Linked DNA regions of Homo sapiens. The protein of the gene in region 1 interacts with the protein of each later gene in a pairwise test. Each region holds a gene or a part of one and is shown in the gene's direction. Other genes may lie near its edges.

What was found.
Region 2: the proteins of WASL (region 1) and IPO5 interact in a two-hybrid assay, tested with the Homo sapiens proteins (one large-scale study listed by BioGRID and IntAct).
Region 3: the proteins of WASL (region 1) and FCHSD2 interact in a two-hybrid assay, tested with the Homo sapiens proteins (one large-scale study listed by BioGRID and IntAct).
Region 4: the proteins of WASL (region 1) and ROBO4 interact in a two-hybrid assay, tested with the Homo sapiens proteins (one study listed by IntAct).

Annotation. Positions count from the first base shown.
Region 1 is NC_000007.14:123,686,504-123,690,003, reverse strand, and holds part of WASL (actin nucleation-promoting factor WASL), read left to right. Parts: intron 1-853; coding exon 854-962; intron 963-3,500. UniProt on the Homo sapiens protein: Regulates actin polymerization by stimulating the actin-nucleating activity of the Arp2/3 complex. Involved in various processes, such as mitosis and cytokinesis, via its role in the regulation of actin polymerization.
Region 2 is NC_000013.11:98,012,675-98,016,174, forward strand, and holds part of IPO5 (importin-5), read left to right. Parts: intron 1-1,367; coding exon 1,368-1,540; intron 1,541-2,855; coding exon 2,856-2,967; intron 2,968-3,051; coding exon 3,052-3,107; intron 3,108-3,500. UniProt on the Homo sapiens protein: Functions in nuclear protein import as nuclear transport receptor. Serves as receptor for nuclear localization signals (NLS) in cargo substrates.
Region 3 is NC_000011.10:72,890,819-72,894,318, reverse strand, and holds part of FCHSD2 (F-BAR and double SH3 domains protein 2), read left to right. Parts: intron 1-3,500. UniProt on the Homo sapiens protein: Adapter protein that plays a role in endocytosis via clathrin-coated pits. Contributes to the internalization of cell surface receptors, such as integrin ITGB1 and transferrin receptor.
Region 4 is NC_000011.10:124,885,529-124,887,865, reverse strand, and holds part of ROBO4 (roundabout homolog 4 isoform 1 precursor), read left to right. Parts: intron 1-25; coding exon 26-133; intron 134-366; coding exon 367-508; intron 509-652; coding exon 653-889; intron 890-1,043; coding exon 1,044-1,402; intron 1,403-2,337.

The DNA of each region.
Region 1 (3,500 bases):
ACCACTTTGAATTTTTTTAAAAAAGGTGTTTACTCCAGAAAGAACAAGGAGTATTAGAGGAAGAATTGTACAGATCAAAATGGAAAGTTTGTCTAAATAAAATTGTCTTTGGGAAATGATTAAGAATTTCAAAAATATATATTATATATGTATGTATTAAAACATAGGTAATTATTTAATACAGCTATGCTGTTTCATCTTTAATTATAATTTTTTTTTTCATGAATGCACTTTGGCACAGCTGGAAGTACTTCAGTTAGGGATTGTTACTTGCCTAGTGAGGCAGGTACATTTTGAAAGTTGATCAACTCATCTCCTTAAAAAGAAATTATATACTATGAGAAAAGAGGTTCATTTTGAAGGTATAAATGTAACATAAAGGTGTAAAGCTGAATTTTTGTAGGCAAATATAAGTTTCTACAGTTGTTTTTCAATATCTTCAGTGTGCGTCCCACGTAACAACTCTGGAGTCTAAGTATTAACCTCTGTTTATAACATGAAATCCCTTGATAAAAGCTTTAAAGTTGATCATCTAAGTCTGTGTGTGCTGGAATAAACAGAAGTAACCCAGCAAGTATTATTCAGGAGAGGGTTTGTTATCTGAATGTAAACATAGATTTGGAAATGTATTTTTGGCTTATACATTAAGATGGAAAGGAAATATTTTTGAATAATATCTTTAAGGCAGCAGTTTATTTCTTGTTAATTTGATTAATCTTGTCCTGCGCTTGCCAGTTTGATATCTTTTTTGTCTTTTACAATAAGAAGTGATTCTAAGAAAGTAGGACTTTCTGGAGACAAAGATTCTTGGCTAAAGATTTATTACTGAGTTTTGCTAACTTTCTTTTCCAAGGTGGCTGATGGCCAAGAGTCTACACCACCAACACCTGCACCCACTTCAGGAATTGTGGGTGCATTAATGGAAGTGATGCAGAAAAGGAGCAAAGCCATTCATTCTTCAGGTAGAGAGAGAGAGAGAGAGAGAGAGAGAGAGAGACAGAGAGAGTGTGCGTGTGTGTTTAATAAATTTGAATGTTTGACGTTCTGTTATTTTTATGACTGTCTTTGCTAGCTTTCTCTCTGCTAATTGAGTAACTACTGATGTGGGCTCTAGGATGTATTTTAAAAAGTTGTTGCCTGTGTGACTAGTCTCTCTGAGACTTAACAAATGCAACACCACCACAGCCATAGCCATAAATTGAAAGAACAGCTTTGGGAATATTGACAGTTTTGTTTCCTATATCAGGAAATGCTAATAGACTTCCTAGCAAACAACCTCTAAACAAAGCTTGAGATTTTTAGATCTCATTCCTGTGACATTACTGTGACATGAAAAATTCAGGGCTGGGTGCGGTGACTCACACCTGTAATCCCAGCACTTTGGGAGGCCGAGGCGGGTGGATCACCTGAGGTCGGGAGTTCGAGACCAGCCTGGCCTACATGGAGAAACTCCATCTCTACTAAAAATACAAAAAAGTTAGCCGGCGTGGTGGCGCATGCCTGTAATTCCAGCTACTCGGGAGGCTGAGGCAGGAGAATTGCTTGAACCCAGGAGGCAGAGGTTGTGGTGAGCCAAGATCGCACCATTGCACTCCGACATGGGCAACAAGAGCAAAACTTCGTCTCAAAAATAAAATGAATAAATAATAATAATAATAAATCGGGCCATTTACCTCATCTGTAAGGATTAGGGATAAGAATTTCAGTAATTTTTACTGTTTCTAGAGTTTGCTAAAGAATACTAACTTTTTTTAAACCTTTCTTTTTCATTTTCTAAAAGGTTGATTTGAAGAAACCAGTACCTATTCTGAGGTTATTATTAAACATATACATACCACCATATAAATATTCCTTTAAAGAAAGAACAAGAATATGAGTTTTGCTGATTGGAGTAGTTGAGGTTTGCTAAATAGCTTCTCCAACATGATGTGCTAGAATCAGATCTTTCTTCTTAGATTTATTTAATCTCTGTGAGCCTCAGTTTCTTGTTTGTTACATTCAGAGAACTCACAAAACATATAGATGTGAGAATTAAATAGTATGTCACTAACCTGCAGATTGCCTAGCACATAGTAGGTGCTTAATAAATGTTACCTTCCTTTTGTTTCTCTGTAAGGATGTCCATGTCTTAAGATCCTTGAGCAATGTTTGTTTTCCTTAAATAGGCATATTTGTACCTACCCTCCATTACAGAGATAGAGATAAATATTTATTGTGGAATAATAATAAAATTTTAACAAAAAAAAAGTCCCTGCCTTCATCGACATGCATTAGGTCTAATGAGAGAGAGAGACAAGCAATAAACAAAGAAAACTAGAAAAACATACAGTATGTTAAATGGTGACATGAAGTAAGGACAAAAGTCTAACAGAAAAGGGAAATAGGGGGCAGACTGTTGAGAGAGAGGTTCATTTTGAAATGATAAAGGATGATAAGGGACAATAAAGCCTAACTGAGGTGACATTTGAGAAAAGACCAGCAGTTCAGGAAGTGAACCATGTAGAAAACTAGGGAAAGTGTATCCGATGGAAAGAACAGAAAATATAAAGTCTGTGAGGTTGAGAAACAATGAGGAGATCACGGAGCTTGCAAGGGAGGGAGGGAAAGAATAGTAAGGAATGAAATACAAGAAGTAGTAGGAGGCCAGTGGTAAGGCTTTGGAGACCCCTGAAAGTGCACTAGCTTTTATTCTGCATATGATGGGAAGCCATTGGAGGGTTTTTAGCAGAGGTGTAGTAATGATCCAAGCAAGAGGTGATGGAGGCTTGAACCAGGTTTATAGCACCAATGAGAAGTGGTTAAATATTAATTATATTTTGAATGTGGAGATCACTGGTTTTGATGATGGTTTGAAAGTGAAGGTTGAAGAAAAAGAAGAGTGCAAAATGACTCCAAGGTTTTTGACTTGAACAACTGGAAAGGGGAAAGACTTACGAAGAAAAAGTTTGAGAGGGAAGATTAGGAGTTTGATTTTACATATTAAATTTGAGATACCTATTAATTCAACTATAGATGTGGAGTAGGCATTTCGTTATGAGTCTGGAAGTCACAGGAGAGGTCTGAATTGTTAAATTGCATGTCAGTAGGATATACATAGACACCTGGTATTTAAAGTTATGGTTATGTTTATGGTATAGTCTTCTTTAGCATAAAAACAGTGAAAATTACCTAAATTCTTAGCCCTAATCCTCACAGATGAGGTAAACTGCCTGAATTTTTTATGTCATAGTAATGTCATAGGAATGAGATCTAAAAATCTCAAGCTTTGTTTAGAGGTTGTTTGCTAGGAAGAGATAAAGAAAGGTCTTCATTCATTCATAAAGAAATGTAAGGCTTCTGTGAACTACATGATTCTGAAAAAGCATTTATTCTATGCTGGTATCTGTGAGTTCTGCTAAATATTTCCCTACAATAAGTTTTTTTTTAATAGTATGTAATAGTCACGCTAATATAATGAAAATATAGGATGGTTTTTACTTATTTTCAGACCCATTTATTTT
Region 2 (3,500 bases), on another chromosome or scaffold:
TTTAAGAGATGGTGTCTCACTCTGTCACCTAGGCTGGAGTGCAGTGGCGTGATCAGGACGCACTGAAACCACAACTTCCCAAGTAGCTGGGACCCAGGTGCACAACACCAAGCCCAGCTAGATTTGATTTTTTTTTTTTTTTTTTTTTTTTTTAAGAGATAAGGTCTGCCTATGTTGCCCAGGCTGGTCTCAAACTCCTGGGCTCAAGCAGTCCTCCTGCCTTGGCCCCACAAAGTTATGGGATTACACACCTGAGCACTGTGCCTGGCAAGACCTGTCTTAATAGATTAGAGAACCACTGATAGATGGTCAGCTTTCTGTAGCAGTGAGAACCCTACATTTCAAATGTGGATAGCACCTTTGCGGGGAAACATCACTTGGCACATCTGCATTCTTTTTTGACACAGGGTCTCACTCTGTTGCCCAGGCTAGAGTGCATGGCACGATCTTAGCTCACTGCAACCTCCACCTCCCAAGTTCAAGCGATTCTTCTGCCTCAGCCTCCTGAGCAGCTGGGATCACAGACATGCGCTACCATGCCCAGCTAATTTTTTGTATTTTTTGTTTGTTTGTTTTTGTTTTTAAGTAGAGACGGGCTTTCACCACGTTGGCCAGGCAGGTCTCGAACTCCTGACCTCAGGTGATCCACCCACATCTGCGTTCCAATATCTTTCTCAACATAATGATAGCCGTAATTAATATTTTCCAGTACATTTTTATGCCTTTACACACGAGAGTGGTAGACAGACACAAACCCAGATCTGTCTGACTCCAAAGCCCGTTTGTCATCATTCCTTTTACGGTATCCTATAGTGGTATCCTTTACAGAAGACAGCTTTTACCCAACAAAGACTTAACTTCCCAGGATGCCAGAGGACAAAGCGGGATTGCTTTTAAGAGGAAGTTATCAAGACCTTATTTTATAAATGAGATTAGATAGGGAAAGGCAATTTAATCTTTATTAAAAACTGAAAAGGCCAGCATAGGAAGAGGTCCTCGGTGGTCTTTTTCAGGGAAATACTTCAGTTGCTTTTATTAGAAACAGATAGTACCTAAGGTTTTGAGGTAGGTACAGCTTAAGGCATGCTAATGGTCATGGGTCCTTCCATAGTCATTTTTGTATTTTGGTTTACATTTGAGCAATAGGCAGCCCTTCACTGCTGCTGGACTCATTCCTGCCACTATTACAGGTGACAGAGGAGACAGGAGGTATGTCTTTTCTATTTTTATACATGCTTTATATTTAACACAAGCTCTTGGGTATCTTAGATAAACAGAAGTTGCCTAGCACTCCTTTTAGTGCATTGAACCCTTTAACATTTAAGCAAAATAATAAACAGTCTTTTGAGGTTCCTTAACAATGAAACGTGTTCGAGTGGCAGCAGCGGAATCCATGCCTCTTCTCCTGGAGTGTGCAAGAGTCCGTGGTCCTGAGTATCTCACACAGATGTGGCATTTTATGTGTGATGCTCTAATTAAGGCCATTGGTACAGAACCAGATTCAGACGTCCTCTCAGAAATAATGCATTCTTTTGCAAAGGTGAATATTTTTCTCTTAAAAAATATGTATAAGGTTGTATGTTCATTTATTAGTCTTGCTAAAAGTAAAAAAAAAAAATTTGAGACAGGGTATTGCTCTGTCACCCAGGCTGGAGTGCAGTGGCGCAATCGCAGCTCACTGCAACCTCCACCTCCTGGGTTCAAGCAATTCTCATGCCTCATCCTTCCAAGTAGTTGGGATTATAGGCATGCACCACCACACCTGGCTACTTTTTGTATTTTTAGTAGATGTTCCTCAGGTCTCAAACTCCTGGCCTCAGGTGATCCACCTCGGCCTCCCAGAGTGCTGGGATTGCAGATGTAAGGCAGCTAAATAAATTTTTATATGCTATAGTGTATGATTTGTTAAAAAATAAAAATGTTAAATTTTTTGTTTTAATATTTTGGTATTATTATGTTTGTTTTAAAGAGGGTAAATTTGCCTTGGAAGGGCAGTATAGGTAGAGGGAATGATATGGGCAGCAGCATGGAAGCATGCATTCTTTGGAAAAAGAGAAGAAATTCTGAATACTCTAGTATTTTAGTCTTGCACTTAATAATCCAACTATAGAAGCTTGGGTATCATCTCCAGTTTCTGTTCTTTACACTTTCCTCAATTCTTCTCTTTTTTTTTTTTTTCATTGCCCCATCTCTTTTTCATGCCATTGAAATAGCCTCACTTGGGCTACTCCAGATGTCTCCTTTCTTTTCCTCTCAGTTCATTCTCCTTTCCTCAAGCACTGCCTTCCTCTTCATTGAGTCACTTCCTTTCTCATACAGTGTCACTCCCATTTTGCACAACTCTAGTTTGCTCCAATCTTGATTGAAGATTTACAGTTTCTCAGCATCTTTATATGTCCTTATTTACACTCCTGTAATTCAGAATTGCTTCTGATTTTCCAAAGACAGCATGCTTCCATACCTTTGCCTATATTTTATTTCTTCTACCTCTAATGCCCTTCCTTCAGTGTTCTTGTATGTTGTGTGTACGGAGTATGGATATAGCAATTGTGTTCCTTAGGAGCTGGTTGTGTGTGTGTGTGTGTGTGTGTGTGTGTTTTCCATCTTTGAATCCTCAGTACCAAGCATGATGCCTGGCACCTAGGTATGCTCAGTAGTGTTCAAAAGAAAATATTTTTTTCTAACTCCAATCTCTAAAATGCTGTCATTCTAACAAATACAAGCTAAGCATATGTAAATAATCTTCCAGGATACTGAACTGTGTTCATTTTTCCATATGATTCTTAGTGGAGTTTAACTTTGGACTCCAAACACCCCAAATCTTATGGATTGCTTTCTTTCCTCAACCTCATTAGTGCATTGAAGTAATGGGAGATGGATGCCTTAATAATGAACACTTTGAAGAACTGGGAGGTATATTGAAAGCAAAGCTTGAAGAACATTTTAAAAATCAAGAATTACGACAAGGTAAGTTTTCCATGCTTTTATTTCTGAATATAATCCTTGACCATCTTGGCAATCATTTAAAACATTTATTTGGGTGTGTTTTAGTTAAAAGACAAGATGAAGACTATGATGAACAGGTCGAAGAGTCACTACAAGATGAGGTAAGTTATTCCCTTTGGAACTTACTTACGTGACCACTTGCATCTGAAAGACTTGTAAATGCCTCAATTTCTGATTTATGTGACTTGTCATTCTGATGTAATTATCAGTCTTTAGCAGAGGAGTCAGATATATTTCCTCTCTTAATTTATGAATAAGTAATTTGAAATTAAACTGATATGTCTTTCGGTGCTATGTGCATTTTGTTGTAATACCTCACTCAACAAAACACCTTGAGGTTTACCTAGTTCATTTACATACTGCTCACAACAACCATTTGTATTTTGTGGTGCTTTCACTATATTAAAGATGAGTAACCTAAAATTCCAGTGTTAAATGATTGCCTAGAGTCACACTGTTGACGGTCTGGGGCCTTTTTCACCATGTTACTTAGT
Region 3 (3,500 bases), on another chromosome or scaffold:
TCTGCCTTGGCCTACCAGAACACTGGGATTGTAAGTGTGAGCTACTGTGCCCAGCCCCAGTATATTTCTTGTCTCTCAGTAAACTGAAAAATGTAAGTAGTACAAATTCCCTGAATGAGGGTTAACTAGAATGTTATGCCATTGGCCTAACAACCCCAACACTATCTTTTTTTGAAATGGTTTGGAATGCTAGTATTTTACTGTTAGTGATTTTCATTCATCATACATGACCATCTCTTTTTCTCTCCTTGAAATGGTTATATTTTAGTTACAGAGTTAAAAAACTGATTGTTTTCTTCTGCGAAGTCAGCTTTTCTATCGCTGCTCACTCTGCTCAGATATCTGAGCCTTCTATGCCTTTGTATTAACCTTAAAATAAAACAAAATCATATCTTGAGAGAGCATCTAAGGACAAAATAGTTAAGATGACTTAAAGACTAATATATCAAGAATATTGGAATGCTGATTTCCTTAATTTAGTTCTTCAAAGTTATTTAATAACTTTATGAATGTTGAAAAGACTTTATTGTAATATTTTATTCTAAAGGGACTAGAGTTTTTTTTTTTTTTGGAGACAGAGTCTCCCTCTGTAGCCTAGGCTGGAGTGCAGTGCCACGATCTTGGCTCACTGCAACCTCCGGCGCCACCACGCCTAGCTAATTTTTGTATCAAATACATTTTTAAAAGATAAAGGAAAAATATTGGGCTGGGCATAGTGGCTCATGCCTCTAATCCCAGCACTTTGGGAGGTCAAGGCAGGAGGATCATTTGAGGCCAGGAGTTTGAGATGGCCTAGGCAACATAGTGAGATCTCATCTCTACTAAAAATCAAAAAAATTATCTGCGTGTGATGGCATATGCTGTGGTCTCAGCTACTTGGGATGCTGAGGTGGGAGGATTGCTTGAGCTTGGGAGGTCAAGGCTGCAGTGAGCCATGATTGCACCACCGCACTCCAGCCTGGGCAATAGAGTGAGAACCTGTCTTCCAAAAAGAAAAATGTTAAAAGAATGATCTAGGCCAGGCGTGGAGGCTCATGCTTGTAATCCCAGCACTTTGGGAGGCCAAGAACAGGTGGATCACTTGAGGACAGGAGTTCGAGACCAGCCTGGCCAACATAGCAAAACCCCCATCTCTACTAAAAATACAAAAAGTTAACTGGGCATGGTGGTACATGCCCTGTAATCCCAGTTACTCCGGAGGCTGAGGAATGAGAATCTCTTGAACCCGAGAGGCAGAGGTTGCAGTGAGCTAAAATCATGCCACTGCACTCCAGTCTGGGTGACAGAGTGAAACTCTGTCTCAAAAAATTAAAAATAAAAATAAATTTGCCAGCATTTTAAAAAGAAGCAGTCATTACGGTTTCTTTGTTAGAATCGACCACTGCTAATATCACTGTCTTAAAAAAAAAATTACCAGCCACGCACGGTGGCTCACACCTGTAATCCAAGCACTTTGGGAGGCCGAGGCGGGTGGATCACGAGGTCAAGAGATCGAGACCATCCTGGCCAACATGGTGAAACCCCGTCTCTACTAAAAATACAAAAAATTAGTTGGGCATGGTGGCACATGCCTGTAGTCCCAGCTACCTGGGAGGCTGAGGCAGGAGGATCACTTGAACCCAGGAGGTGGAGGTTGCACTGAGCTGAGATCATGCCACTGCACTCCAGCCTGGCCAACAGAGTGAGACTCTGTCTCAAAAAACAAAAAACAAAACAAACAAAAACACAAAAACATAATTATCTATACTAGATCCTGATTTATATTGATCTTTGATAGTGAAGGTGGTATTGGAACATTTCTCTGTGTATTGTTTAATAGCCTGGGCTGTATTCACCTTGTATGAAATTCTCAGTTGTCAAGACCTGTGTCTCAGGAGCTTCCACATGTATTCCATGGCTTGATTTCAGAATTCATGAAAAGGATAAATTAATTTGAGTTTTAGTTTTGTGTCATTCCCTACCCAAAGGATCTCAAAGCCACATCTTCCAATCAGTGGCATTAGTTACCTGTCCTGATCATTGGACTCCCAAGTCTTAGTAGACACATAAAAAATAAGGGAAAAGCTCTATCCTGAGCACAGTGAATACTCAATAAGAAGGTATAAATTCTGTAAGGCAAATTGGGTTATGGCCCATCTGCAGCCAGCACACAATTTAAACCCCTTTACCTATTCCTAAAATGCTGCTCAGTAACAAAAATTAAATGTCTCTATCAGTTGCCTCCTTTCTCATCTAGCTACTCCCTACAAATTCATTCTCTTTGAGATCTGCCTTAATCTTTCAATATATCTTCAATCTTCATTTTGGATTCATTGTTTAGGCTATTAAGAACCTAGGAATTATCTGGATTTTCTTATGAACAGTAATAAGAAAATTTTTGTTTCAAGTAATTTTCAATTGGGTCTTTAACATTAACAGTTACCATTACTGGATGCCTAAGATATTATGTAGATCCTATACCAGAATGTTTAAAATATGACCTCATTATAACCTACCAACCCTATGGAGATAGGTGACATTTTCACTAGTTTTCAGATGTAGCTACGACTCAGATAATTAACATGCCCAAGATCATAAAGCTAGTAGTGCCATAAAATGGCATACAATGGATTCAAACTAAGTCTATCTGACTCAAAAACCTATTCTTGGACTCTTCAGAATTTATCTTTCTACTTTTACAGATCACATTCCTCTGACTTTTGTATATTTCATTTGTATCTGTGTCCAGAGTTTAACACTTTAATATTCCTGACTTTGAGAACAGATGTAAGTTTGAATGCCCAGATTCATTTGCAAAGCAAAATATAATAGTAAAGTTCATTCCCAAACTTCTGATAACCCCAAAAATGAATTAGAATGTAAAATATGAATGTAAAGATGGTTAAGTTTGAATATTGATTATTTTGCTCTATTTCAATTTATTTGTCATTGTTATAATCTAGCTGAAATGTCTGTATAGAACAAAAATTTTTAAACCCTGCCTCATCACAATTCCCCCAACAAAAATATTAATTTTTAAAATCCAGTTTATCAATTTCTACTTACTCTATCAATTTTGAGCTATGAGACCTTGCAAAAGAATTACTAGGCCAGGTGTACTGGCTCATCCCTCTAATTTGAACACTTTGGAAGACCAGGGTGGGAGGATTACTTGAGCCAAGGAGTTCAAGATGTTGAACTCCTATGTTGCCTGGGCAACATAGTGAGACCTTATCTCTAGAAGGAAAAAAAAAAATGAGCTGAGTATGGTGACACACACCTGTAGTTCCAGCTACTCAGGAGGCTGAAGTGGGAGAGTCACTTGAGCCCGGAGGTTGAGGCTGCAGTGAGCCGTGATCAGAATTTCTAAAATTCTTTTCATTCTACAATTTTGCTGCTTTCTATATTAAAAGCCTCTTTGGGTAATTTATATTTTAAAAAAAATTCCTAATTATCTCAATAAAGTTTGTTTTTCTTGGGTCTTTAAGAATTTAGAGAGAATTAAAATAGTTTTGTGTTTA
Region 4 (2,337 bases), on another chromosome or scaffold:
ACAACCACCAACCCTTTCTTTGCAGAGCTGCAGCATGCCAACAGTTCCCCACTGCTCCGGGGCAGCCACTCCTTGGAGCTCCGGGCCTGTGAGTTAGGAAATAGAGGTTCCAAGAACCTTTCCCAAAGCCCAGGTGAGAGGGGGTCCCTGAAAGGGAAGTGAAGGGGTGAGATAGGGTGTAGGGATGCAGGGGCTTACCAGCCCAGGGCCCTCCCACGGGCTCATCCTCCTTTCCCTGAGGAGGCTGATGAGGGTTGGATGGAGTAGTGGACAGGTAGCTAAGGGGGCTGGTGGGCAGGCCGGCAGGCTGAGCTCCAGAGCAGATGGGGATGCCACTGTTCTCACACCCAGGCTTCTCTTCCCCAGGAGCTGTGCCCCAAGCTCTGGTTGCCTGGCGGGCCCTGGGACCGAAACTCCTCAGCTCCTCAAATGAGCTGGTTACTCGTCATCTCCCTCCAGCACCCCTCTTTCCTCATGAAACTCCCCCAACTCAGAGTCAACAGACCCAGTAAGAGGGCATGGGGTCGGGAAGCAGGGCTGGGAGAGTGGGGGTGTGGGGAGTGTGTGCCGGGATTGGACAGGCTGGGGAAGGGGGGAAAGGACTTGAAGAGCTGTAGTAACTACGGTGCCATCACTCTCTCCCGCAAATCAGGCCTCCGGTGGCACCACAGGCTCCCTCCTCCATCCTGCTGCCAGCAGCCCCCATCCCCATCCTTAGCCCCTGCAGTCCCCCTAGCCCCCAGGCCTCTTCCCTCTCTGGCCCCAGCCCAGCTTCCAGTCGCCTGTCCAGCTCCTCACTGTCATCCCTGGGGGAGGATCAAGACAGCGTGCTGACCCCTGAGGAGGTAGCCCTGTGCTTGGAACTCAGTGAGGGTGAGGAGACTCCCAGGTGAGTAGCTTGAGAGATAACCAAAGAACTACAGAAAAGCTGTGGGGGCAAGCGCCTCTCCACCCATTCCGCCCTCCCTCAACTGGGGCTTTTCTGTTACTACAACCCTCATTCCACCCAAACCATTGCTGTCTCCCCTTTTGCCTCTCCCTAGGAACAGCGTCTCTCCCATGCCAAGGGCTCCTTCACCCCCCACCACCTATGGGTACATCAGCGTCCCAACAGCCTCAGAGTTCACGGACATGGGCAGGACTGGAGGAGGGGTGGGGCCCAAGGGGGGAGTCTTGCTGTGCCCACCTCGGCCCTGCCTCACCCCCACCCCCAGCGAGGGCTCCTTAGCCAATGGTTGGGGCTCAGCCTCTGAGGACAATGCCGCCAGCGCCAGAGCCAGCCTTGTCAGCTCCTCCGATGGCTCCTTCCTCGCTGATGCTCACTTTGCCCGGGCCCTGGCAGTGGCTGTGGATAGCTTTGGTTTCGGTCTAGAGCCCAGGGAGGCAGACTGCGTCTTCATAGGTATGTGAGGTCTCCCCATCTTACTCCTCACTCATGCCCCTTGCCTTTCTAACAACTGTTATCATGTCATCATTGTTAAAACAACTAGTTTTATTGAATGATTATTGTATCTCAGGCACTATGATAAGTGCTTTGCATACATTTAATATTGAAAGTCTATGTGGAATATTCTTTATCTCTCTTATCCTAATGAGGAAACTGTAAGTCAGATAATTTTATTGGCTTGCCCAAGTTCACCCACAGAACAAGGACAAATTGTCCAATTCTTTTTGTTTGTTTGTTTGTTTTTGTTTTGTTTGTTTGCCCAGGCAGTGGCATGATCTCAGCTCACTGCAACCTCTGCCTCCCAGGTTCAAGAGATTCTCCTGCCTCAGCCTCCCGAGTAGCTGGGATTACAGGCACCTACCACCATGCCCAGCTAATTTTTTTGTATTTTTAGTAGAGACGGGGTTTCACCATGTTGGCCAGGCTGGTTTTGAACTCCTGACCTCAAGTGATCTACCCACCTCAGCCTCCCAAAGTGTTGGGAGTATAGGCATGAGCCACTGAGCCTGGCCCAAATTGTCCAGTTCTAAAGGCAGCCAACTGTAGGTCCATTTCCCTGCCTCTAGGACTCCCCTCTTACCCCGACTTGAGTCTCCAGGAAAGGTTGCTCCATCCTCTTCCAATCCCATCCTCCTGCCCTGTCCGTGGCTGGGGCTGACGAGCCACTGGGCTCACCTCTGACATTCCCAGCAGAGTGGGACCTTTATCTCCATGTCAGCAGAAGGTAGTACAGGGTCTTGGCTCCTTGGGTGTCCCTTCCCCACATGCACCATCAGATCCCCCATCCCCATTTTACTAACCTTAACTCTATCCTTTGCCCCGACAAAAAAAAAAAAAACAGGCTTGTGGTAAATGGGAGGGCAAGGATTATCCAGGACAGAAGTGCCCAT